Regions from separate parts of the Homo sapiens genome. Here all the other regions are linked to region 1. A link means that fine-mapping ties the variant in region 1 to the plasma level of a protein whose gene starts in the linked region. Region 1 holds a variant in brackets. A gene starts in each other region. All regions are shown on their forward strands.

Region 1 (7,534 bases):
TTTTTCTCAGCTCAGAGTCAATCTGCATTATTTATTTAAATTCAAAATTATGAGAGAAGCCAGGCATGGTGGGTCATGCCTGTAATCCCAGCACTTTGGGAGGCCGAGGTGGGTGGATCACTTGAGGTCAGAAGTTCAAGACTGGCCTGGCCAATATGGTGAAACCTCGTCTCTACTAAAAATACAAAAATTAGCCAGGCGTGGTGGCAGGCACCTGTAATCCCAGCTACTTGGGAGGATGAGGCAGGAGAATCGCTTGAATGTGGGAGGCAGAGGTTGCAATTAGCTGAGACTGCACCATTGCACTCCAGCCTGGGCAACAAGAGTGAAACTCCATCTTAAAATAAATAAATAAATAAACAAACAAACAATATCCTGTGTTTTAAGACAGAATTTCTCCTTTTTCTTTTTTTTTTTTCCTTTTCTTTCTTTCTTTTTTTTTGACACAGTATCTCACTCTGTCACCCAGGCTGGAGTGTAGTGACATGATCTCAGCTTACTGTAGCCTCTGCCTCCTGGGCTCAAGTGATCCTCCTACCTCAGCCCTCCAAGTTACTGGTACTACAAGCACAGGCCATCATGCCCAGCTAATTTTTATATTTTTTGTAGAGATGGGGTCTCACCATGTTGCCCAGGCTGGTCTTGAACTCCTAGATTCAAGCAATCCTCCCAACTCCGCCTCCCAAAGTGCTGGGAATACAGGCATGAGCCACCATGCCCAGCCTAAGGCAGAATTCAGACTGTAGTATAGGGCTGGGCGCAGTGGCTCACACCTGTAATCCCAACACTTTGGGAGGCCAAGGCGGGTGGATCACTTAAGGTCAGGAGTTGAAGACCAACCTGGCCAACATGGTGAAACCCTGTCTCTACTAAACATACAAAAAATTAGCCGGGCGTGCCGGTGCGTACCTGTAATTCCAGCTACTCAGGAGGATGAGGCAAAAGAATCCCTTGAACTGGGGAGGCAGAGGTTGCAGTGAGCCGAGATTGAGCCCCTGCACCACTCCAGCCTGGGTGACAGAGCGAGACTCTGTCTCAAAAACAAAACAAAACAAAACAAAACAAAGACTATAGTATAAATGTTGAATCTGGTAATGCACCTTTCAACAGGACTTTCCTCTACCTACCAAAATAAAAATCCTTACAGTTGGCCCTCAAAACAAACAAACAAAATAATAACACATGCTTTTCCTCCTCAGTACAAGTTAACAGAAGGGAGAAACGTCCTTTTTGTTTGTTTGTTTGAACTCTTGGATCTGTTGTAGTCAGAGAGAGATAACAGTGTCGTGAGCATGGTTGACTCTAGCCTGTGGCCCTCAGGTCTAGAACATTAGATTTGCCAGCAAGTCCAATGGGAGAAGGTCAAAGAGGACTAATTCCCACTATCAGGTGCTCAAGAGACCCATTAATTGACATTGAGAAATAAAACTGCCAAGCAGGCTAGAACATATTGGTTGGCCAATGCATTCTCTCTCTAGGGAAAATTCCAGATAGCTCAGCAAACTGTACTTA[T/C]AAGCTGACTTAGAAGCACAGTGTGAGGAAAGTCACTATGGAATCCAAGGGCTCCCGTCATTGCGGCTCATGTGCAGTTGGTCAGGGCAGCCCGGGCAGCCACAGGGGCAAGGGCAGGGTCTCTGGACTTCCCTCTCCAGGCTCCAGGCACCACCCCTCTGTGAACAGACTTTTTCTTCCAGATATAGTAACTCTTCTTTACATTCAGTGAAGATTTGGTTCGATTGCCAGGTTCCATTATTTTGTCCAGGAAGGCATCCTAACCTTTATAGTGGCTTCTCCGGTGCTGACATCCTCTATTTTGGTTTGGGCAAGCTCTCAGGGGTATCCTTGTTTCCAAGATTTTAGCTTGGGGGTGGGATTTCCTGTGGGCACTGGGACCCCCTAATACATCATGTCTTCAGCTTCACGCTGGACAGGGATTCGGGGCTTTACTTGTTCATGTCCTATTCCTCATGGCTAAAATAATATCTTACATTTTTTAGCATGCTTAGCTTCTTCTAAGCATTTTCATGTACCATTACCTCTTTCATTCAGTCATTCAACAAGTATTTATTGAGTGCCTACTCTGTAAGAGCCAATGTCCTAGACACTGGGGAATGAAGGAAAAACAAGACACAACCCTTGTCTTCCTGGATCTTAGAGTCTCCTGGAGAAGGCAGAGAAGTAAATAAGCCATGACAATACAGTGCCATAAATGCAATACGGCAGGCAAGACGTGGGTCCCCGCGCCTCTAATCCCAACATCTTGGGAGGCTGAGACAAGCGGGAGAATTGCTGGTACCCAGAAGTTCAAGAAAGGCCCGGGCAAAATAGCAAGAGCTTGTCTCTACTTAAAAATAAAATAAAGTAAAAATACATAAATAAATAAAATAAAATAAAATAAAAATTAGCTGGGCTTGGTGGTGCCTGCATGTAGTTCCAGTTACTGGAAAGGCTGCAGACCATCACTTGAGCCCAGGACTTGAAGCTTGCCGTGAGCTATGATGACTTCACTGCACTCCAGCCTGGGTGACAGAGTGAGACCCTATCTCAAAAAAAGAAAAAAGAAAGAAAAAGAAAAAATGCAACGTTGGGCTGGGCACGGTGGCTCATGCCTGTAATCCCAGCACTTTGGGAGGCTGAGACAGGCGGATCACGAGGTCAGGAGATCAAGACCATCCTGGCTAACACGGTGAAACTCTGTCTCTACTAAAAATACAAAAAAATTTAGCCGGGCGTGGTGGTGGGTGCCTGTAGTCCCAGCTGCTAGGGAGGCTGAGGCAGGAGAATGGCGTGAACCCAGGAGGCGGAGCTTACAGTGAGCTGAGATGGTGCCACTGCACTCCAGCCTGGGCGACAGAGTGAGACTCCGTCTCAAAAAAAGAAGAAAAAATGCAACGTGGCAAAGGAGTGCAGGGGTACTGTAGGGTCAAAAGGGATAGCTACCTTAGCCTTGGAGGGGTGGAGAAAGGAGCATTCAATGTCTAAACTGAGTCCTGAAGAAAAATGGGAGCTGGCCAGGTGACTCATGGTGGAAGGGGAGGAGAACAGTGCTGAGGGTTGTGAAAGAGTGGGCAAAGGTCGAGAAAGGAGAGAGCACAGCACCACAGACACAGACCCTGCCCTCATGAGGCACAGGGGCTACTGGACAGATGGGACAACAATTGGATGTTAAAAAATGTCATGACAAAGGTGATGGATTCTACGGGGGAAAGCCTGCAGAGAGCTAATGTCGCACATTGCAAGGGCCTCAATATTGTCTGTGGTGTGAGACAGAGGAAGTGGTGTTTAAGCTGAGATCTGAGGGGGCAGTGGGAGATACTTACATGAAAGGGGAAGGGGAAGCAGAAGGATCCACTTGTGCAAAGGCCCCACAGTGGGTGGGAGGACAGTGCTGGGGGAACTGAAAGAAGGCCAGCGCTCTGGGGTGCCGAGAGCAAGAGGTGGGGAGGCAGCGGTGGCCCAGCCATGCGGGTGGTGGAGGAAATGTGAAGTAGGAAAGCCATTTGATCTGCTTAGCCTTTCGCCACTGTCACTTGGACCTCAGTATGGAGAAGCCAAAGGGAGGCAAGAGTGGATACAGGAACCTGCTTTGGAAGCTTTTGTCCAGGAGAGAGCCTTGAACTAGAGTGGTGGTCATAGAGATGGAGGGACGAGGATGGAATCAAGAGACACTAATCGGAAACCTGATAGGATTAGCTCACAGGGTGTTAGAAAGAGGAAGGTGTCAAGGAAAAGTCACGGGTTTCTAGTGTGCCCAACTATATAGAATGTGGTTATTTATTCACTGGCATTCATTACCAGTCACAGAGAGGACTGCTGGTGCAGGGCCAGGGTTAGGGGAATTCACCTTGCATACACTGTGTTAAAGGGACCTTTGAGACATCCAAACATTTAACATATGAACCTGAAGCTCCGAAAGGAGACGCAAGCATGAGGGCCCTTGGTGTATGGGAGGACATCACGGGTGTAGTGGGGATGGACTGTGTTGAGTGTGTGGAGCGAAAACGCAAGGCGGTCCAGGAGCAAGCCCACAGGGATGCCCCATAAAAAGCTGGATGGAGCCTGGGCAACATGGCGAAGCCCCATCTCTACCAAAAATACAAAAATTAGCCAGGCATGGTGGCGCATGCCTGTAGTCCCCCCTACTCAGGGGCCTGAAGTGGGAGGATGGCTTGAGCCTGGGAAGTGGAGGTTGCAGTGAGCTGAGATCACACCACTGCACTCCAGCCTGGGCAACAGAGCAAGGCTGTGTTTCAAAATCAGCCACAACAACAAAAGCTGGATGGAAGAAGATGAGCCCACAAAGGACTGAGTTTCAAAATCAGCCACAACAACAAAAGCTGGATGGAAGAAGATGAGCCCACAAAGGACTGAGAAGGGCAGAGGGGTGGGAGGAAAACCAGAATATGGTGACACAAAACCCAAAGAAAGAAAGCTTCTGGATGGAGAGAAGAATCAACAGCATCAATTCATGCTGAACAATCAAGTAATGAGGACTGAAAAATATCCATTAGGCTTGGTTTGGTTTGAAGTCACTGTTGACCTTAGCAAGAGAGCCAGCTGGAGATGCTTTTGCTGGGTCAGCGGTGGTAACGGTGAGGCCAGCAATGGGGCTGGACGCCAGATCGGAATGGATGGAGCAACGAAGTGAGGATACAAAGGGCCCCAGTTTTCTCTCCTACCCAGAGTCTGTTTCAACCCACACCTGTAATCCCAGCACTTTAGGAGGCCAAGGCAGCCTCACTTGAGCCAGGAGTTTGCAACCATCCTGGGCAATATGGTGAGACACCGTATCTACAAAAAAAAAAAAAAATTAGCCAATTGTCTTGGCACACTCCTGTGAGGCTGAGGTGAGAGCATTGCTAGAGCCAAGGAGGTCGAGGCTGCAGTGAGCTATGATCACAGCACTCTAGCCTGGGTAACAGAGCAAGATCCTGTCTCTAAAAATAAAACAACACAAATGTAAGAAAGAACTTCTGCCTGTGGCAACTGTATCCCCAAATATCAAAGCCTATAAAAACTAAATAGGCCTGGCACAGTGGCTCACGCCTGTAATCCCAACACTTTGGGAGGCCGAGGCGGGCAGATAGTTTGAGCTCAGGAGTCCCAGATCAGCCTAGGCAACATGGTGAAACCCCGTCTCTACCAAAAATAAAAAACTTAGCTGAGCGTGGTGGTGCACGCCTGTAGCCCCAGCTGCTGAGGAGCCTGAGCCCAGGGGGTGGAGGCTGCAGTGAGCCATGATCACACTACTGTACTCCAGCCTAGGTGACAGAGTGAGACCCTGTCTCAAAAAAATAAAAGAAAATAAAAATAAACAAAGAGAGAAGTGGAAGAAGAGGTGGAGTTTTGTATTTATGACTTGAATTTTGTATTCATGACTGGGTTGACACCCCAATCCACTCCATTTTTAGCCTTGAAACATGGCAAACAGTAACCATTAAAAGGATGGAAAAGAGAAGAAGGCATGGGTGGGAAACTGTGCCTCCCATTTTTGTGCATCTTTGTTGCTGTCCTTCCACTATACTGTACCTTTCAGCATTTTGACGGCAACCTGGATTGAGACTCCTGTTTTGCTAATTCCATAAGCTGTTGCGTTCATCACTTTTCCAAAAGCACCTGATCCTAGTACCTTCCCTGCAAAGACAAATGGTGAGTACGTGCATTTTAAAGATTTTCCAATGGAAAAGAAATGCTGCAGAAACATTTGGCACATTCCATTCTTACCAAACTCTAAATTTTCTCTTGGAAACTCCCATTTGAGATCATATTCATATTCTCTGAAATCAACGTAGAAGTACTCATTATCTGAGGAGCCGGTCACCTGTACCATCTGTAGCTGGCTTTCATACCTAAATTGCTTCAGAGATGAAATGATGAGTCAGTTAGGAATAGGCAGTTCTGCAGATAGAGGAAAGAATAATGAATTTTTACCTTTGCTTTTACCTTTTTGTACTTGTGACAAATTAGCAGGGTTAAAACGACAATGAAGAGGAGACAAACACCAATTGTTGCATAGAATGAGATGTTGTCTTGGATGAAAGGGAAGGGGCCTGCAACAAAAGAGTGTCACTCAGCGATGAAACAGAATTCCTGTGTGACATTATAAATAGTGGACAACTCATTATAATCTCTCACATCCTGTTTCAGTAATAATCATTTTCAGTCCTAACAACCACTCTACATATACTCTACTCCCCACAGACAATCAGGCAATGTCCCTGTAAAGGATACATTTCCTCCCTAGAAAATTGCGGATTATTCTCAATCCATTCTTTAAAACCATTTACTAGGGTAAATTTACAAGAATTACATCTGGTCCAGGCACGATGGCTCACGCCTGTAGTCCCAGCACTTTGGGAGGCCAAGATGGGAGGATCACTTGAGTCCAAGAATTAGACACCAGCCCAGGCAACACAGTGAAATCCCGTCTCTAAAAAAATTCAAAAATTAGCTGGGCGTGGTGGCAGGTGCCTGTAATCCCAGCTGCTCGGGAGGCTGAGGCAGGAGAATCGCTTGAACCCTGGCAGAGGTGAGCCAAGATCACGCCACTGCACTGCAGCCTGGGTGACAGAGCGAGTCTCCATCTCAAAAAAAAAAATGCATGGATTTAAACCTACAGGATGTACAAGTCAGAGAAAAAAGAAGTTCATATCCCTTTTATGAAGGTCGCACATGAAAGTGGAGAAGTCAGTTTTGTGAGGTTGGTGATCCTAACTACTAGGGTGGGCAGCCAGGTTTCACAACTGTTTAACTTAGGAGGGCTCTAAAAAGCAAACCAAAAATTATAAAACAGCAAGCTGAGGGCAAATAAGGAGGCTAATCAAAAGGGAAAATGACAGAGACTCCAAGTGACAAAATCTGTTTCTCTAGAGTTAGATCTTTCCATGGAGATTCACCACACTGGGAGTTTCTGCTTCTCCCGGTCACTGTGACACATGAGTCACAAGGGCACAGGGAGGACTCCGCCCCAACCTGTGAAACAGTCTCTCTGGGGATTCTTGCCTGACTCAAGAAACCTTTTCTCACACACTGACCCTATACTCTCCTGTAAAATTCCCCAAGTAAAAGTCAGCGATGGGGACTAACTTCTAGTGGGGAATTCCTGATGGTGGAATATCACAAGAACAACTGTTGTACCTGGAGAGTTTAAAAGGATCGTCTCACAAGATGTGCCAAGGGAATTGTATGCACAGCACTTGACCAGGAACCCTTTTATGGCTTCACTCATGTTTAGAGTACTGCTCGACACCCACTGTCCAAACACTTTTCTGTTAGCCTTTCTATTCCAGACTCCTTCTGTGATCTCTTCTGTGCAGCTGAAAAAAAAAATAGCAAAGAATTTAGACAGGTGAGCTGTCATCAGATTGGAAGTTAGGATTTCTGCAGCGAGTTCTAAAAGAGATTCATCCAGTATAAGTTATCAGAAACAGTCTATGACTATTGAGAGTTATGGTTGATTGAGAAGGTTAGCATTTTAAATATTTCATCATTTCCTCTTAAACTGTATTCATGAAAGAGTCAATAGGTCAGAGAG
Region 2 (8,280 bases), not on the chromosome of region 1:
GCCACTGATTTGGACAAGGAGAGGGGTTGTAGAGGGTTGTTGCTGTTCATGGGTTCTCAATTATCCACTCAGAGCCAAAGGAATGGCAGTAAGAGCCAGAACTAATTAAATGTGGGATGCAGATAACTTGTCTTCTCCCCATCTCCCCTTTCTGTGCCTTTCTTTTTTGTAAGGACCCAGTTATTGGATGTCCTGGAGGATTTTACTCCAAAGTGTAGAGAATGCAGCATTCCTGCTGGCATCAGCACAGTGGGATATTTTCAGGGTATTTTTCTGGCTCGCTGATTGAGAGGATCCTATCCTGAGTCAATATACTTGCCATGGAGTTGAAGATGTCCTGCCTGGCTAAATGGGGTCTGTTGGCAATAATAGTAAATGCAGGGCTTAGCAAAGGCTGGGAGCTGCTTGGGCATTCACCCCTTCCCCCAGGGAGGGTCAGAGGGTGACCATGAAGCTATCCTGGCCCTTGGACGATGCCAAAAAACCAGGCATCACTTTGAAATCCCTGCTGACCTCAGCAAGAAAACAGGAGATATTGTTTTAGGTCTAACATTTAAGTCTTTAAGAAAACCTAGGCAATACCATTCAGGACATAGGCATGGGCAAGGACTTCATGTCTAAAACACCAAAAGCAATGGCAACAAAAGCCAAAATTGACAAATGGGATCTAATTAAACTAAAGAACTTCTGCACAGCAAAAGAAACTACCATCAGAGTGAACAGGCAACCTACAGAATGGGAGAAAAGTTTTGCAATCTACTCATTTGACAAAGGGCTAATATCCAGAATCTACAATGAACTCAAACAAATTTACAAGAAAAATTCAAACAACCCCATCAAAAAGTGGGTGAAGGATATGAACAGACACTTCTCAAAAGAAGACATTTATGCAGCCAAAAGACACATGAGAAAATGCTCATCATCACTGGCCATCAGAGAAATGCAAATCAAAACCACAATGAGATACCATATCACACCAGTTAGAATGGCAATTATTAAAAAGTCAGGAAACAACAGGTGCTGGAGAGGATGTGGAGAAATAGGAACACTTTTACACTGTTGGTGGGAGTGTAAACTAGTTCAACCATTGTGGAAGTCAGTGTGGCGATTCCTCAGGGATCTAGAAGCAGAAATACCATTTGACCCAGCCATCCCATTACCAGGTATATAACCAATGGACTACAAATCATGCTGCTATAAAGGCACATGCACACGTATGTTTACTGCGGCACTATTCACAGTAGCAAAGACTTGGAACCAACCCAAATGTCCAACAATGATAGACTGGATCAAGGAAATGTGGCACATATACACCATGGAATACTATGCAGCCATAAAAAATGATGAGTTCATGTCCTTTGTAGGGACATGGATGAAGCTGGAAACTGTCATTCTCAGCAAACTATTGCAAGGACAAAAAACCAAACACCGCATGTTCTCACTCATAGGTGGGAATTGAACAATGAGAACACTTGGACACAGGAAGGGGAACATCACACTCCAGGGCCTGTTGTGGGGTGGGGGGAGGGGGGAGGGATAGCATTAGGAGATATACCTAATGTTAAATGACGAGTTAGTGGGTGCAGCGCACCAACATGGCACATGTATACATATATAACAAACCTGCACGTTGTGCACATGTACCCTAAAACTTAAAGTATAATAAAAAAAAGGAAAGAAAACAGGAGATATTGGAGATCTCAGGCAGCCATCACAAATGTTTTCTATTTATTAGGAAGAGACACTCTTAACCAGAGACGCTGAAGAGCCAAAGACAGGAGAACTCACCAAACTGTCCACTGACAGGAGCTGCAAAAAAATAAGAGCCAGAGATGAGCACAGAACCATGATTATTTTGTTTTAAGAAGATAATTCCCTTTTTTACCCATGCATGTATTACTTGTCCCTTTAAAAAATTCATTTAAAAACTCTAATAATTATTCATCAAATGTATATATATACACATAAATATACATATATATACATATATATATGGCATGGTATTTGGACTTCTACAATGAATTTTAAAAATGGTATCTGCCATCAAGAAGTTGACTAGTGGAAAAACAGAAACACGATTTAAAATAATATAACACAGGGTGTAAGTGCAATAACAGAAATACACATGGGGTATGTTGGGGGCAGAAGGGCCACTAGCCCAGTGTGTAGGATATATGTGTGTGTGTAGAGTGTGTGTTTGTGTGTACATGTGTTGAACAGGATGGGTGGATCCTTGAAGGTACCTGAAGGAGATGATACTTCACAAAACTGTGAGTGAGAACATGAGTCTGCAGGTGGATGTTAGCATTTGTGTGTGGTAAGAGGCGATTTCTACCTTTCAAGGTAGAAAGGGCACAGAAGTGGAGAAATGACATTGGTGCTCAGGAACTGGGAGTGTTGGGGGAAATAAGACCAGAGAAGCATGCAGGGCCTGAGTAAGTGGTTCTAATTTTATTATAAAAGTGATAAGGAGTCATGGAATGGTTTCAAGGAGGAGATTGACAAGGTTAGAATTTCAGACTTTGATGGAGCACTCTGTCAGTGGACAGAATTTAATGGGACAATATGAAGCAGGGAGACTGATTAGAAGGCAGGGCAAGGAAATGGACATGAATTAAGCCTCCCTTGGGCACCAGACTCCAGGCTATACTCTTTTCATGAGATCATTGAATCCAAGGGCTCATTATCATCATGCCTAATTTTTAAACAATCAACTGATGCTCAGATTATTTAGACCTGATGCTCAGCCCAAGAGATGGTAATGTGTAATTTTTGTCAGAGTATTTATCCAAATTATCTTCATTATCTGCTTGTTTATTTTCCCTTCTCTATAATGCAAGCTCTATGAGACCTAGGACTTTCCTTATGTTCACCATATATCCTCCAGGACCTATAACGGTGAATGGCATATAAAAGATATTCCTTTAATGTTCACTAAATATATTTGTGTTGTATAATGAATTAATTAAAGAACTAGGTTAATAATATAGGAATAGAAGGATAGAGATTTGAGAAATGGGTAATGAAGAGAGAGAGGACACAAAACTGGCAGGTTTATCAATTGAGTAGGTATTCTGCATATGGGTTGATTTATTTATTCAACAGATTTTTGGAATGCCAATCATACTCCAGAGCAAGGCAATAGAAATCCAGGAGTGTGTGAGAGACAAATCATCCCTGTCCACATGAGGCTATTGGAGACTTATCCAAACTTAAGTGTTTTACTGAGAACAACAAATTATTCACCATTCACCTGAATATTTTGGCTTCCTTCATCTTTGCATTGTTTTAAATGAAGCTAATATTTTTGTGAGTGGTTTCTATATGGTCTGCATTTACGTAGGTTATTTCATATAACCATGTCAATAATCCTGTGAGGTAAGCACTAGGATTAACTGCATTTTGTAGACCAGGAATCTGGTAGCCAGTAGGTGGCAAGATGAAGTTTGAACCTAGATCCTGTTTGACCCCAGAGCCCATGTTATAAACTTTGCCCTCTCATGCTCAGGACCTGGCCATTACCCACATTGTGTGGGGCCACACTGAGATGTATTCCTACTTCAGGAATTATAGTCCATGCACCTTCCAACTGTGAGGTCCTCTTTTCTTATATCACGCCTGCTCCATTTCTGCTCCTCTAGCTCCTACTCACCTCTAAGTTTCATGAAGTCTTTACTAGCTATTTTGAATACAGTTTATTATCTGCCTACAGCATTCATTGGTAACTTTGCCTGGACAATTATTTAACTGGGAGCTTGTTGCATAGCTGCTTGAAAGTACATTGGCCTTGCTGGGAGCCCTTCTATGTCATGACTTTCCAGAACATAGACGTAGTGTCTCCTATGGACTCTAATTGCTCAGCACCTGTGCATAGATATTACTAAACACATTTGCTGAACAAATAAATAAACATATTTAATTATAATATTTAACCTTTAGTAAAAATCAACCAGTTCGCACATATGAGTTGATAGAGACTTACGTACACCCACAGGGACAAAGAGAAAGTCATATGCTTTAGATTTATCCTTGCTTTGTCCACCTACGCCTCTGCGACCTCCTCCACCCCATGTTCTTAATCAGCCAATTGCTGCAGTGGTTTGCAATTATGTACAAGAGAAAGACCTGTCTTTCCCGTTAGAAACCTTGCCTCTTATGCTGGGGACCAGGATCTGGCCTTGTCATACAAGGAATAAATACATCTCCTCTGCAGAGAGGAGAGTGGGCTCTTCTATGAGTAAGACAATATGAACAAACAAACATGAAACATTCTCTGGACTTTAAGAAGTACTTTTTAAAGAAAAAAATAAATGAAATTTTAATTGTTGTGGTTATTGTGGTTTCCTACTCTGTAAGATTGAAAATTCCTTCCAGCTGTGGCCATTTTCTTCAGCCTCAAGAGAAAGCCCTGAGCTACAGAGTAAAGTTCAAAAATACAGTCTCCTAATGTAGGAGAGAGTCTCTCAGCAGGGGCTGAGCCCCAAGAAAGGACCAGGCCTGCGGTGGAGAGAGAAGCTGTCCCGATCCCACCCAGGGCCCATGGTGAGCCCTTTTACTCACCCAGGACCAGTAATATCACCCACAGCAGCATGAAGACCTGGACCACCAAGGGCTGAGATCAAAAGAGAAGTTTCCTCAATTCCAAAACAGGTTTGGACTTGATCTTACAGTCAGGACACTGCACACCAGCTCCAAGGAGCACATCTGAGAAGCTGTGCTCTCAAAAAGAGCAGAATGCATTAGTGAATTGAAAAAAGGAAGTGGGAGTACCCGTCTTCAGCTGCTAATCACAGTTTCCTACCCGATGATCAAAGAAAAAAAAAAGTTAAGGTTTTAAAAAATCAAATACCCTTGACCCTACATTTTTGCTATTGGGAAATTACCCTGAAGGAAGTATCTGAAGAGAGTACTATAAGAACGTTTATTGTAGCATTCATTATTGCCTAAACACTGGAAACAAAACAAAAAACCATGATATGGGGACTGTTTAAGAATATTCTGATTCATCCGTATGGTGACAAGCAATCATTAAAGAATAAGGTAAATCTGAACATGCCAAGAAGGGAAGACCACCTTGTTTGATGTGAAGAGAATAAAAGTGAGATATAGATTGGTTTTGTAGTATTATCCCATTGGGTAAATATAAAAAATAGGATATATGTGTACATCAACTCTTTTAAGTATACTTTCTTCTTTTCCTGGAAAGTACACACAAAAATATTGATTATGTTTGAGGAGCAATAGGTGGGAAGAACACAATTTATTTTATGTATTTCTGTACCGTTTGATTTTTTAAAAAATTACCAGGTGAATGTATAGCTCTTATGATTTTCTAAAAGTCAAGTTTCCATCCTGGTATACTGGTCAACAGAGGTTCCTAAGACATTAGCTGCCACGAGGAGTGCCAGTTTCTTTCTTTCAAATATTTTCTCACCCTTTCTCTCTGGGCCCATACCTTGGTCTTCCTAAGGGGGCATTTAATTTTATATCTACAAATGCACATCACCTTAGGTATATTATGTCACATCTGACCCACTGCACCCTGAGGCAAGAAAACCATACAGGGGTTACAGGGGTGAATAGAGATTAAGAGGAGAACTTCAAAGGGAACACAGAATCTTTACCTACTTTTGGTGCTAAAACAAATAGTGCTGCTATGAACATTCTTGTATACATTTATTGGGGCATATGCGCACATAATTCTGTTGGGTATATATCTGGGAGTGGAAGTCCTGGCTCATAAGGTATGCATATATTCAGTTTAGGAAGTATTACCAAATTATTTTCCAAAGTGGTTGTGCCAATTCCCACCACACCCACCAACCAATGTATGAGAGTTATCATTGTTCTAAAATTCTTGCTGATATTGGTATTGTCATCTAGTAAAATCTGGCCGTTCTGCTAGAATTATCTCAATGTGGTTTTAATTTGTATGTCTCTGGTGAATTTGAGAATGAGCATTTTTTCATAGTCTAATTGGTGATGTAGATATCCTTTTTATGTGCAATCTCTGTTCAAATATTTCCTCATTTTTCTCTTAACTTTCAGTCTTTCTTTTCCTGTTTTGTAGTTATTTTAAACCCTGAATATAAACCTTTTGTTGGATATATGTATTGCAAATGTCTTCCTTCAATCTGTGGCTTGCTTCTTTGCTCATTGATAGTGCCTTTTGATGAACAACCATTCTAACTTTGACATAGTCCAGTTTATCAGTCTTCTCCTTTGTGGTTAGAGATTTTTGCATCCCTTCTAAGAAAGTTAGTCTACTCCAAGATCATAAAGATACTCTCCCAGGTTATCTTCTAGAAACTTTATTTTTTACCATTTATTTTATATTTATAAGAGCATTGCAATTGATTTTTGTGTACAGTTTGAGTGTTTATATTCACTTTTAACTTAAATACAGATAATTTATCCTGCCCTATTTATTGAAAGTTGATTTTTTCCACAGTACAGTGCAATTTCACCTTTGTTATAAAACAAAAAGCCATGTAGGTCTATTTTTGGAAACTCCTTTCTTGTCCATTAGTCTATTTTGTCTATCCTCATGCCAATACCACACTCTTCTAATTATTGTGGCTTTATAATAACTCTTATTAACTGATAGTTTAAGTCATAAAATGCTGTTCTTCTTCAAAATTGTTATGGCTATTTTTGGCTTTTTGAATTTTTCTATACATTTAAAAATCACCTTGTCAATTCCTGTCCCCTCTCTCCCCAAAAGCCTAGTAGATTTTTAATAACTGGGATTGCATTGGATTTATAAGTTAATTTGTATAAATTAGAAAAGATTTAGTCTCCCAATCCATAAACATACAATATCCCCTCATTTATTTAGGTTAACTTGACATTCTTTCAGTAATTTTCTATAGCTTTGCCTCTGGAAAGTATATCTTTTGGTAGGTTTATCCTTAGGTTATTGATATGTTTTTTATGATATTGTAAGTGACATCATTAGATTTTTTTCTAAATGTATATTGGTATATAGAAATATAATACTTTTTTGTTTTACTGACCATTATTTTTATTTTTTTGAGACAGAGTTTTGCTCTTGTCCCCCAGGCTGGAGTGCACTGGTGCGATCTTGGCTCATTGCAACCTCCACCTCCCAGGTTCAAGCGATTCTCCTGCCTTAGCGTCCCAAGTAGCTGGGATTATAGGTGTCTGCCACCATGCCCAGCTAATTTTTGTATTTTTAGTAGAGATGAGGTTTCACCATGTTGGCCAGGCTGGTCTCAAACTCCTGACCTCAAGTTATCTGCCCGCCTTGGCCTCCAAAAGTGCTAGGATTACAAGCGTGAGCCACCATGCCCGGCCTTACTGACCTTTTAATATCTACTAAAATTGCGGAATTTACTTATTAATTTTAATAGTTTATCTTTAGGTTATTTTAGATTTCATGCAAACACAATCATATAATGATAGTTTTATTCATTATTTTTAATACTTAAACTTCCTTTTCTCTCACTTATTGCACTGACTAGGAACTCAAACATGATACTAAAGAGAAGTGGTAATATCAGGTGTCCTGTCTTAGTCTCACAGAAAAAGCTCTTAATATTTCAATATTAAATATAATATTTTCTGTAATTTTTTTTGGTGAATACTATGTATCAGATTAAATACCTTTCCTTATATTTCTAATTTGCTAAGAAATTTTCCTTTTTTCCTAAATAATGGATGCTGTTTCAGTAAATACCTTTATTGCCTCTATTAATATGATCATATGATTATTTACTTTTATTGTTAATATGATGAATTACATGGATGATTATAAATGTAAAATCAACTGTGCATTCCAACTTGGCCATGATGTGTTATCTTTTTTATATATTCTTGAATTTGACTTATAAATTTGCTGTGCTTTTTAGCATTTGTGTTCATGAGGAAGATGGACCAATTTTCTTTCTTGATGAATTTTAGTAACAAAATTATATTGGTCTCATAAGCAAGCTCCTTCTTTTTCTATTTTCGTGAAGAGTTTGTGTACGACTGATGTTATTTCTTCCTTAAATGTTTGGAAGATTTTACTGGTAAAGGTACTTACTTAGGCTTATGAAAAAATGCTCACCATCACTGGCCATCAGAGAAATGCAAATCAAAACCACAATGAGATATCATCTCACACCAGTTAGAATGGCAATCATTAAAAAGTCAGGAAACAACACGTGCTGGAGAGGATGTGGAGAAATAGGAACACTTTTACACTGTTGGTGGGAGTGTAAACTAGTTCAACCATTGTGGAAGTCAGTGTGGCGATTCCTCAGGAATCTGGAACTA
Region 3 (3,038 bases), not on the chromosome of region 1:
TCTTCCTCCATGCCAGCCTTGCTGTCATCCTGGGGGCGGAGAGGGATGGAGATCAGAGTGTTAGTGTCCCCCAGCCCCATCCCCTGCTGGGCCAGGCTGGGGAGGGCCAGGGAGAGGGGTGAGGGGTCAGGAGTGAGGTGCATTCTGCAAGAACAGCTGAATGAAGGAAGGAAGGAAGGAATGATTGAATTGGTGAGCCAGTGGGGACAGGCTGGACCAAGAAGGCCACAACGAGAGCTGGGGAGATGGAGACCCTGCATATGCCTGGCCTATGCGGTGGCCTCCTCTGCGGTCCCCCAAGGCTTCCCCCGTCCCCTGATCACCTTGTCCAGCAGCAGGAAGATAGGCACGATGATGAAGAGGATGATCAGCAGCGTCTGGATCATGATGATACCATCCTTCAGCGTGTTCCTCTGCTTCAGCTGTGCCAAGGTGCTGAATCCTGCGGGGACAGGGGTGGGGTTGTGAGCCTGGGCCACAGTCCACCTTTTAGGCCTACAAGGGCAGCTCCCTCAGGTCCCAGTGGCTCTCCTGAGTGCTCTAGGGCCATGACCATCACCACAAGAGGCAGGCCGGGCTAGGGTGGGGCGGACAGCTACAGGAGCGTCCCAGCCACCTGGCACACACCCATGACTCGCAGCTCTGTGCCGCAGCCCTGGTAGACCTCCGAGGTGTTGTTGCACTTCTGCTGACAGAAGTAGATGCCATTGTCCTCAAACCGGATGCCTTGGATGGTGAGGGTGGCGAGAGATTCGTTCTGGGACTCTTCCATGCGGCCCTTTTCCAGCTTCAGCTGCTGGGGATTCTCGTCCATCTCCTGCTTCCAGAGCCAGCTCACATTGCCGGAGGCGCTGTTCATGTAGCAGTGCATTTTCACCGTGAAGCCCCGTTTCCTGGCTATGAAACGTGGGCTCTGCCAGATCCGCGAACAAGCACTACCTGTGGGTGCCAAGGCCAGGCTCAGCATTCCGCTTGGCATCTTCCTGAGTGCCAGCCCCAGCAGCAGGCCCCTGCCCTGGCTGGCACAGACTCCCTGGGCTTAGTCCTTGCTTCTCAGGGTGTGGGACAGGCAGGAGGCTGAGGTTGGAGTTGGGAAGCAGAGCCACGTGAGAGGCTGAGCCACATGAGAAGCCACGGCCAAGCTCTCAGACTCCACCTCTTCCCGACTGCCCCACCTCCCCTTCGATTTTCCTTTGGAAGAGCCCTGGGACCTTGCCATTCCTTCCTATGCCCATTACAACAGCCTGACCCAGGCCACACCCCCAGGACCTGGAGGCCCACAGGCCTGGCCCCTCCTTTCACTGGGCTGCCCTGCACAGGCTTGAAATCCTCAGTCTCCCCCGTTCCTCCAGGGATAAAGGCCAAATTCCTAGTCTGTCAACTGAGACCTTCCTCAGTCGACCCCCTCCCTGCATGACTTCCCTCTATCATCCCCCTCTTCCCTCCTGCAGGGACTGGGTCCACTTCTTGTTCCAGAACCCTCTTTCCAGCTTCGACTGCCTTGTTCTTAGTGAGCACTGCCCGGGAATCCCTGAGCCCCTCACATAGTGACCCTGCACTGGAGGGCTCACCCGAGACTCAGCCAGATTCCCAGCTAGACAGGCCCGGGCCTGAGTCCTAGAGGAACCCCCAGGCTCCCTTGCTATGACCCAGAGTTTAGCCCAGCCCTTCAGTGGCCAAGGCTGGAGGGCATGTGTCTGATGAGGATGACAGTGGGCTGGGGGTGGGGCTCAGAGGAGATCCTAAGGAGGCCTGGGGATGGGAATCCTGGATGGGGAGATCAGGCAAGGGTGGGAAGGCGGACCGCCCCCAGGACAGGGACCATAGTCGGACACAGGACATAGTCGCACACAACTTGCCCTCAGAAGCGGCAGGCGAGGCTACTGACCTTTGGGATTCCGGTACCGGTCCTCCGATCTGGCTGCTGGTACTGGCTCAGCTGCTGGGTGGGAGGAAGTGGGCGGGGCCAGTCAGGGCCTCCTCTGGCCTGGGCTGCCCCACCCCTGCATGCCCTCTATGTTCCCGGAGCTACTTCCTCCTTCCATGACAGCAGCTTCAAGACCCCTCGGTCCTCCCTGCCCCCAGTACTTGGGAGACAGATATGGGGTGGGGGTACCGGAAGCCCTGCCCCCAGCCCCCTTTCTGCCTTTGACCCTCATGGTGGCTTTGAGCAGGCATCTGAATGAGACAGGAGGGACAGGGAAATCTCAGTATTTTGAGAGGCCAAGACAGGAGGATCGCTTGGGTCCAGGAGTTTGAGACCAGCCTGGGCAACATAGGGACACCCTGTCTCTCTTTTTTTTTTTTTTTTTAAAGAGAGACAGGAAGAAAGTCACAGCCCGGAGGATCTTTCACCTCCCAGAGGAGGGGACCACATTTGGATCTTGCATCTTCCAGGGTCCGGTTGGGACAGCCTCTCCCCTCCCGACCCCCAGGCACCGCCCTCAGCCTCTCTTCCTCCTGAGCCTAGTTCTTCCACGGTCCTGGTTGCTAACTCTGGTTTGCTCCTCATGCCCAGCTCAGCCTGATGCTCTCCAGGCAGGAGAGGAACTGGGGCCACAGGCTCCTGAGCCCATCACCACGTGCAGCTGACACCCACAGACCCAGGCCCCAGGGCCATGAGAGGGAGACAGGCGGTAAAGAGTGAGAGACAGAGGAGGAGGGTGGAGCAAGCAGGAGGCAGAGCCGCAGGGCCCAGACAGCTGGAGATGAGAGCAAACCCCACAGGCCTCGTCGTGGGTTCTGTACCTGAGAGCAGCAGCAGCAACGCCACCATCCAGTGGCTGGGCACAGGAGACAACGCCAGCCTGGCCATGGTCACCGCTCTGTCCCCGACCCCAAACCCGTGACAACGTCCGAGGCTCCTTGGAGGAAAACGTGTAACTGCACCGGCTGCAGCCTGTCCCCTCCCCGCCTCTTCCTCACCAGGCCCCTTCCTGCCATGCAAATTGGGACCCAGGGGAGGCACCAGCTCTCCGGGGACCCTGGGGGAGGGCAGGCTTTTGTCAGCTGGGCCGCTAAGGTTTGGCGGTCGCCCA
Region 4 (7,969 bases), not on the chromosome of region 1:
CCAAGATGAAGCCTAGAAAAGAAGTCAGAGAAAGGTCAACTGTCAGGATGTTTTCAGTATGCCTAGAGAAAGTCCTAAAATATTCCAATTCTCATTGGCAACCCTGCTTTTCCCAATAGTTAGATGAATACTTCACATCAGCCCCCAATCCCAAGGTCATACCAATGTCCTATGCATTGAGTCAGGCCCACAGAACCTATATAGCCGTAGACTCACACAGTCATGAACCAAAGGACTCTACCTGAGAGGTAGAATATGTGAGAGACCGATCCTCCACACATTCTACCTCATCTCCCCAAAAGTTACAAACTATCATCATTTTATGCCACAGTGTGACTACCACATGTTTGTTGATTTTTACTGTTTTACTCAGAGTGGTGAGCATTAAAGCCCTTTAAATTAAAAAGACTTGAGTATTTACTTGGGGGAATAGCAAGAAAGTCAAAGGTTTCACTGCTGTTTCTCAGCTGGCATAAGAAGAGAGGTACTGGATGAAGAAAGAGGGTGAGGCAGCTCTAACAGGAGAAGGAAAGTTAGCTCAGCCCTTGGTCACACACCGGGGACCGAACAGGCTGTGGCAGAGGAATGGACCTTAACTCTTAGCAATCAGATGTGTTAAGGTTCCTTTGATGCTGAAGCACTTCCAGCCTCTTCTCAGACCCTCATTCAGAGACCCCAGACAGCAATCCTTTCCAAGCTTTTCTTCCTATAATTTTGATCTATCTTTTCTTTGGGTCAATGACAATATCATTTACCTTGGCTCAGGATGCAACACCTCACATATACAGAGGTCTCAAAGAATGCCTAAGGGAGTACAGTGTGTCTGAGCATAAAATGCAGCAGCTGTCAGTGTAGAGCTTCTTCTTATTCAAAATGAAAAAACAAACACTTTTCCACAACTTCATGGACCACCAACCACGGGACAAAATATGAGGAGCCTACTTCTCTTGCTCCCCAGGTTCCTGTTTTGATCACATCCCCGTGGGAAAGGAGATGAAGCTCCATTCATCAGTGCTAAGAAAGGCTCCCCAACCATGCCATGGCCATGCTATTGGAATGGAAATACCTGCTTTCCAGACACCAGATCTGGCTTCTAGGGTTGAACTACATCCCGTCTCCCCTTTCCCAACTGACCATGCCTTCAGTGCACAATCACAGATACACAGTTGGTGGAAAGTACCTTGAATGCTGGTCACCAGGAGTGACAGAGGCAGCAGTAGCAATTCCAGAGCCAGACACGAATCCCAACCTCTGGAGCACATGCTTCCTTCCAGAACTTCCCAGCAACGCAGGAGACAGTTGAGAGCCTGGCTAGAAAAAGGCCGGGGCTAAAAACGGAACTTACCAAACAGGGTTAGAGAGAAAAAAAAAAAAACCACTGAGATTTTCTCTCCACCCAGCACACTTGTGTGGGGCCCCAGAAACCAGAAACCGGAGGTCTTGTAAATTTTTTTATCTAAGAGCATCACGGAAACTGAGAACAATTTTGTTTGAAGGTACATGAGTGCTTTTTTGTAGGGGGAAGATTCATAGCTTCTACTGTACTCTCAGGGGGGCCAGTACTCAGAAAAGAATAAGGGACCCTGATAGAGAATGTCTGCTTTTCGTTCCCAGGCAGGAATCCCTCTGATTAATTCAGGGGCTAAGACATAGGAGCTTCCCAGTCAAGCCTGGGTAGGTGTCATTCAGAGCCTGAAGTCTGGGAAATCAGACCCACGTAGCCTTTGTGCTGCATATCTTACCCCCAGCACCACCCTCTGCTCTTCTTCCTTTATGATAATTCACTATTTGAAGTTTGACATCAGCCTATCCACTGAACATCAGAAAAAAAGTAAGATTACTTGGCCCAAAAGAATGGATTTCCCACCCTTGTAGTCTGTATTAGTCTGTTCTCACACTGCTAATAAAGACATACCCCAGACTGGGTAATTTATAAAGGAAAGAGAGGGGTTTTGTTTTGTTTTGTTTGTTTTGGTTTTTTTTTTTTTTGAGATGCAGTCTCACTCTGTAGCCCAGACTGGAGTGCAGCAGTGCAATCTCAGCTCACTGCAACCTCCACCTGACAGGTTCAAGCAACTCTCCTGCCTCAGCCTCCTACATAGCTGGGATTACAGGCAAGCACCACCATGCCCAGCTAATTTTTGTATTTTTAGTAGGGTTTCACCATGTTGGCCCGGCTGGTCTTGAACTCCTGACCTCAAGTGATCCACCTGCCTCAGCCTCCCAAAGTGCTGGGATTATAGGCATGGGCCTGTGCCTGGCCAGGAAAGTGGTTAAATTGACTTCTAGTTCAGCATGGCTTGGGAAGCCTCAGGAAACCTACAATCATGGTGCAAGGGGAAGCCAATACGTCCTTCTTCACACGGTGGCAGGAAAGAGAAGCACTGAGCAGCAATGGGGAAAGCCCCTTCCTTATGAAACCATCAGATCTAGTGAGAACTCACTATCACGAGAACAGCATGATGGTAACTGCTCGTATGATTAACTTACTTCCTACTGGGTTGCTCCCATGATATGTGGGGATTATGGGAACTACAATTCAAGATGAGATTTGGAAGGGAACACAGCCAAATCATATCATGTCTAGGAAATTTCAAGCTCATTCCTATTGAATGTAAATTAGTTATTTGCCCACCCAGGACCCACAGGCAAGCCACAGTTCCTGATATAACATATTTGTAATCACTTTTTAATTGGGGACATTTCTGATTCTCAACATGGAGATGAACAATAAAATGTCTGCTCTTCTCAGTCCTCAAACCTGAAGGACATTATGTTAAGTGAAATAAGTCATGCACAGAAAGATAAAAAACCACGTTCCCAATCATATATGGAAGCTTAAAAAATGAGCTCATAGAAGTAGAGAGTAAAATTGTGGTTATCAGAGGCTGGGAAGGGTAGAGGGAAGTGGAGGATGGGAAGAAGTTGGTTAATAGATACAAAGTTACAGCTAGAGAAGAGGAATAAGTTCCAGCATCCTGTAGCACTATGGAGTGAATACAGTTAAGAATAATTTAATGTATATGTTCAAAAAGCTAGAAGAGAGGATTTGGAATGTTCCCAACACAAAGAAATGATCAATGTTTGAGGTGATAGGTATCCTAATTGCTTTGATTTGATCATCACACATTGAATACATGTATCAAAATATTACTCTGTATCCCATAAATATGTATAATTATTATATGTCAACTAAAAATAAAAGGGAAAAAAACATAAAAGTGAAAAGAAAGAACCCTGCAAATAAAATTTGAAACAGCACCAGAATCAAATTCCTCTTGGTCAAATTGTTACACTTTGGAACTGTGTGTTATATTTTTCCTATAAATTGATTTAACCTTAGGATACGACCCTGCTCCTTCAGCAAGAAAAGATAACATTGTATTAGATTTTTAAAAGAGACCCTGTAAATTAATGTTACATTCTCTTTTTTGGGGGGAGGGGGGCACAGGCTCCCACTCTGTCACCCAGTCTGGAGTACAGTGACCACTATGCATGGCTATTTTTTTAAAATTTTTTGTAGAGATGAGGTCTCACCATGTTGCCCAGGCCAGTCTTGAACTCCTGAGCCATAGGATCCACACTCAGTCAGTGGCAGGACGGGGAGTGCTGTGACCTGCTTCCACCTTGGGCACCAGTGTCTAAATGAAGGGAACACAGTGGCACTAAGAAACTCGGAGATGCCAGCAACTGCGGAGCCCTAAGGGGTGTTACAGCTTTGCTTGGGGAATCCCAAGGCCTGAGACCCCAAGAAATGTTACAGCTCTCTCTCTCGTTCCTGCCACCTGCAGCTCAGCAAATGAGGGCACCTCACAGCTCTTGTTCAGTCCCACTGCCTGCAGCTCAGCAAATGGGGGCATGTCACAGCTCTTATTTAGTCTTGCTGCCTGCAGTTCAGTGAATGGGGGTGTGTCACAGCTCTCACTTGGTCCCAGTGCCCACAGCTCAGCAAATACGGGTATGTTACAGCTTGTTCCTGCCACCTGCAGCTCAGCAAATGAGGGCACCTCACAGCTCTTGTTCAGTCCCACTGCCTGCAGCTCAGCAAATGGGGGCATGTCACAGCTCTTATTTAGTCTTGCTGCCTGCAGTTCAGTGAATGGGGGTGTGTCACAGCTCTCACTTGGTCCCAGTGCCCACAGCTCAGCAAATACGGGTATGTTACAGCTTGTTCCTGCCACCTGCAGCTCAGCAGGTCCTGGGTTCTTGTCCTGCAACCAAGAGGAATAAAGCATGCAGACAAAGGAGAGTGAGTAGGTCAGAGAATAATTTTATTGAGTGACAGAAGGAAAGCTCTCAGCAAAGAGGGGACCAGACAGTGGGTAGACCACTGTGTGAGAGGGGCCCCAAAACAGGTAGCCCTCTGTGAGGCTGAGTCTGGGGTTTTCATCGGCTCAGATTTGTCCATAGGCAGGCCTGGAAAAAGCACCATTCGATTAGCTAAAAGGTATCAAGGAAGTTCTCACTCTGGTTGTGGACTCTACCCAGAACTGGCAGCCCAGTTTTCAGGCTTTAAACTGTCTTTGTCTTGAAAGTCTAGTTTCACCAGGGACCCTTTTCTATCTGTCCAGGAATTTGTCTGTCTCCTGTCGCTATCACTTTGGGAGGCCGAGGAGGGCAGATTGCCTGAGCTCAGGAGTTTGAGAGCAGCCTGGGCAACATGGCAAAACCCCATCTCTACTAAAAGTAAAAATAAAAATAAATGTTAAAATACCTCCTTTGAATGTTGTTGTGAAAAGTTGAAGAAAGGAAAGAACTTTTATCTGAAGAATGTGAGTCCTTCAAATTATCAGAGAGACATTTAAATGAGACAGAAATCACATTTTACTTCCCCCTACTCCACCTTTGGGCTATGTATTCACCTCTTAAAACTACTTGCTATTGCTGCAAGTAACCATAAATTAATCTAATAATGCTGCACTGGACATATAACCCACACCTTACAGCTTAACAATATGTAACCAATCACTAATTAATGTTATTTCTGCAAACCAATGAGAATTCCAAAAAAAAAACTTTGTATCACTTTTTTTGCCTTTAAAAACCTGCTTGTAACAAAGGCTGAGCAGAGCTCAAAACCAATTTTACTTGGGTCTGAGTCTTCCAGGCAGCTGTCCTCCCTTTGGCTCAAGTAAAGTCTTCAAATCATATTTTGTGTTTCAGCCTCTTTCTTTTAGATTGACAAGTAAACAGCTCTATAATTCTCAACAGTCTGCTTAGATGTGAATTAATAGCCATGGGATATAGGCTGATGTTAAAACAAAGGATGAAATATAAACTTAAGCCAAGGAATCTTCCTCCTTTTGCATGGTAACAGCGGGCACTGAAGTACTATGGGTGCCCATTCTGAGGTTCAGGACTAGCTAGTTAGGCTTCTGCATAGATTCAAAAACAAGTCTGAGAGAAGTGACCAATAAAGGCTCAAAAGCCCTCTCCCTGCCCTAAGTGAATCAGCTGTTCTTGCACCAAAGCCCTGGTTGCAGAAATCCCTGAAGTTTGGGCATACCCAGAGGTGGGGCTGCAAAGACCCTAGAAGATGAAGTACAGGTCAACAATCCTCATGATGTGAATTAAAATACACACTCTTCTCAGTATCTAATCTGGTGGGCACTTGACCTACTGCTTGACTTTGACAAAGTGATAGTAATGACAGAAGCTATTATTTTCTGTGTATCTACTAAGTCAAGTACTTGCCAGGACCTTTGCCTATATTATCTCATTTAATCCTCCAACATTTTACAGAAGGATCAGGTTTCAAAAACAAAAACAACAACAAAACAACAAAATAATAATCCTCCAACATTCACATGAGGATATTTATAAACACTATTCTTATTTTACGGAAGAGATAACTGAGGTTCAGACAAGTCAAATGGCTTGCCCAAGGGCATTTTGCTAATTAGAACCAGAATCAAAATTCAAATCTACGTCTGTCTGATGCTCCAGCTGGCATGCCTAACTACTATGCACACAGACTCTGGGGTTATCAAGGTTCTGGGCATCAGGGGATCTGCAATATGCCTACAAGAAATGGAGAACACATAGGAAACACTATGAGAGTCATGCCAATGTGAAATTAGGAACTCAGAGAATATAGGGCCTTGAGTAGCCCAAAAATGTTCAAGGAGGGGTATGGTATTGAGCTGAGGATGGAAGACAGACCCCTGGTAGGTTAAGCAGGGCCTTGAATGCCACAACAGGCACAGCTTTGCTAGTGCCTGGAGAGTGAGAGAAAGTGAAGTCATTCCAATAAATTTTCCCCAGAAACAATGAGAGCAAAGATAGGAACAGGGTCGATCTCCCAGAAGATAGAATTGATGAGAACAGGTGGCTAATGTTACAGTAGGTAGTCAGGCAGACGTGAGCAGGGCAGGAGAGAGCCTCCCACACCACCAGCAATGACAGGCGACCATCAGGTGATGGTCAGACAATTGTTAATGTGCCTCTCTAAAATAATAATTGGTCGCAGCCAGCACCAGGGCATGGTGGCTCATGCCTACAATCCCAACACTTCGGGAGGCCAAGGCAGATGGATTGCTTAAGAACAGGAGTTTCAGACTAGCCTGACCAACATGGTGAAACCCCGTCTCTGCTAAAAATACAAAAACTAGCCAGACGTGATGGTGAGCACTTGTAATCCCAGCTATTCAAGAGGCTGAAGCATCAGAATCACTTGAACCCAGGAGGCAGAGGTTGCAGTGAGCCAAGATCATGCCACTGCACTCCAGCCTGGGCAACAGAGAGAGACTCTGTCTCAAAGAAAAAAGAAAGAAGAGAAGAAGAACGCCTCAGGTGAGCATGCATACAACTCCAGTGAACACACTGAATGTGTGGCCCCTCCCAAGTACTAGCAGGCCACTGCGCATGCAGACAGCCCACCCCAAGGAAAGAATCAGGGAGAAGGGACACTAACGTACTTTGGTTCCATGACTCAGATTTGTTCTCTGGTTGTTAGAGATCTCTACACCTCGCCTTCTTTGGCTGGAGTCATTCAACCCACATATGTGGTTTTCTTCTCCCTTTTGCTCTCCTGCTTACTAACCAACCCCTAAAACAATTCCTCTCTGCCGTCCTGGACAGGAGGCTTGCAAGAGTGATAGGGCTAAAGCCTGAGACTGTGCAATTTCTGGGGTTTCCTCTGCTTTTTCAACTAAAATTGGCTCTTTCCCCAAAACCTGCGATGCCTATTCTCCTGCTTTCTCTGGATGTATTCTGAAATGGCCTTGCGCACCCACTGAACCGTCCACCTCGGGGGCAATTTGCCTTTTCTCTGTTTTCATTTTTCATGCCATGTAACTTCTTAGGCACACACTCCCAGTTGCTCTTGTGCCCGTGGCTCTTGCTGTGGCCCATGGCTCTTGCTGTGTTTGTGTAGCAGCAAAGACATGGGCTCCCTTCTGGATATCCCTTGAGATTTACATTTGTTCTTACCCTACCAGCTCAGATGACCTCCAACCCTTTCCCTGTCTGCTAGCACATTGCCAGGACAGATACTAATGGGAACCTCAGCTCTGCCAATTCCTTATGACTTATCATATGCTTTTTATCCCCATTATGTCCCAGGGCCAAATTTTCTGGTGCCTTCTGAAGCAGTTTGTCCACCTGCGTAGGACCTCATTCTGTGGTCCTTTAAGAACCCTGCCTATGTGATTTTTTTGAGTTAGCACCCCTTTGGGAGGAGGGAAAATTCTTCCTTTGCCATTTGTGAGTTTTTACTCCAAGCCTCAAGTCCTCCAGAGGTTACTACTTTATGTTAAGAGGGCAAATAAAGGTTGTCCTCTCAAATCCAAAGGCTGCTGTTTTTGTGGGAACATGAAGCCTTTCCGTGAGTATCTCCCTCACTTCCTCCCTCTTCCTCGGTAGCCTCCATTTCTCTAATCACTTCCACACCCTTCACAACATTCATCAAAGCTTTCAAGTTCCTATTCAAACAAAGGGAAGTCCAGCTACTTGCTGACTAGCTGAAAAA

Which allele goes with the higher level. Alleles are on the strand shown, and positions count from the first base shown. The strength of an association depends on the size of the effect and on how common the allele is.
In carriers of allele C in region 1, the plasma level of the protein whose gene starts at base 4,744 in region 2 tends to be higher than with T alone (weak association).
With allele T in place of C in region 1, the plasma level of the protein whose gene starts at base 2,885 in region 3 is lower (weak association).
For the plasma level of the protein whose gene starts at base 1,321 in region 4, C is the high allele of the variant in region 1 and T is the other (weak association).

Evidence for each region. PIP is the chance, under the fine-mapping model, that this variant and not a neighbour inherited with it causes the effect. Protein levels are from antibody-based Olink assays in UK Biobank. Linkage for the fine-mapping came from a reference panel and not from the study's own genotypes, which makes the PIPs less certain.
Region 2: it holds the start of FCRL5, and the variant in region 1 is fine-mapped to the plasma level of the FCRL5 protein (UK Biobank, PIP above 0.99).
Region 3: CD79B starts here. The variant in region 1 is fine-mapped to the plasma level of the CD79B protein (UK Biobank, PIP above 0.99).
Region 4: it holds the start of CD48, and the variant in region 1 is fine-mapped to the plasma level of the CD48 protein (UK Biobank, PIP above 0.99).

The regions. Positions count from the first base shown.
Region 1 is chr13:28,028,358-28,035,891 of GRCh38, forward strand. It overlaps FLT3 (fms related receptor tyrosine kinase 3), which reads right to left. Exons shown (of 24, transcript NM_004119.3): 12 at 7,138-7,316; 13 at 5,944-6,050; 14 at 5,725-5,857; 15 at 5,530-5,634. Among named protein-coding and RNA genes, the nearest start is that of URAD, 43 kb to the left of the region's middle. The variant T/C (reference allele first, on the strand shown) is at 1,513.
Region 2 is chr1:157,547,772-157,556,051 of GRCh38, forward strand. It overlaps FCRL5 (Fc receptor like 5), which reads right to left and starts at 4,744. Exons shown (of 17, transcript NM_031281.3): 1 at 4,561-4,744; 2 at 1,789-1,809. The coding sequence starts at 4,591.
Region 3 is chr17:63,929,447-63,932,484 of GRCh38, forward strand. CD79B (CD79b molecule) reads right to left here and starts at 2,885. Exons shown (of 6, transcript NM_000626.4): 1 at 2,749-2,885; 2 at 1,889-1,939; 3 at 628-939; 4 at 324-442; 5 at 1-29. The coding sequence starts at 2,815. RefSeq lists a silencer at 1,735-1,804 and enhancers at 2,502-2,891, 2,865-3,038.
Region 4 is chr1:160,710,502-160,718,470 of GRCh38, forward strand. It overlaps CD48 (CD48 molecule), which reads right to left and starts at 1,321. Exons shown (of 4, transcript NM_001778.4): 1 at 1,181-1,321. The coding sequence starts at 1,262. RefSeq lists enhancers at 1,570-1,749, 2,290-2,349.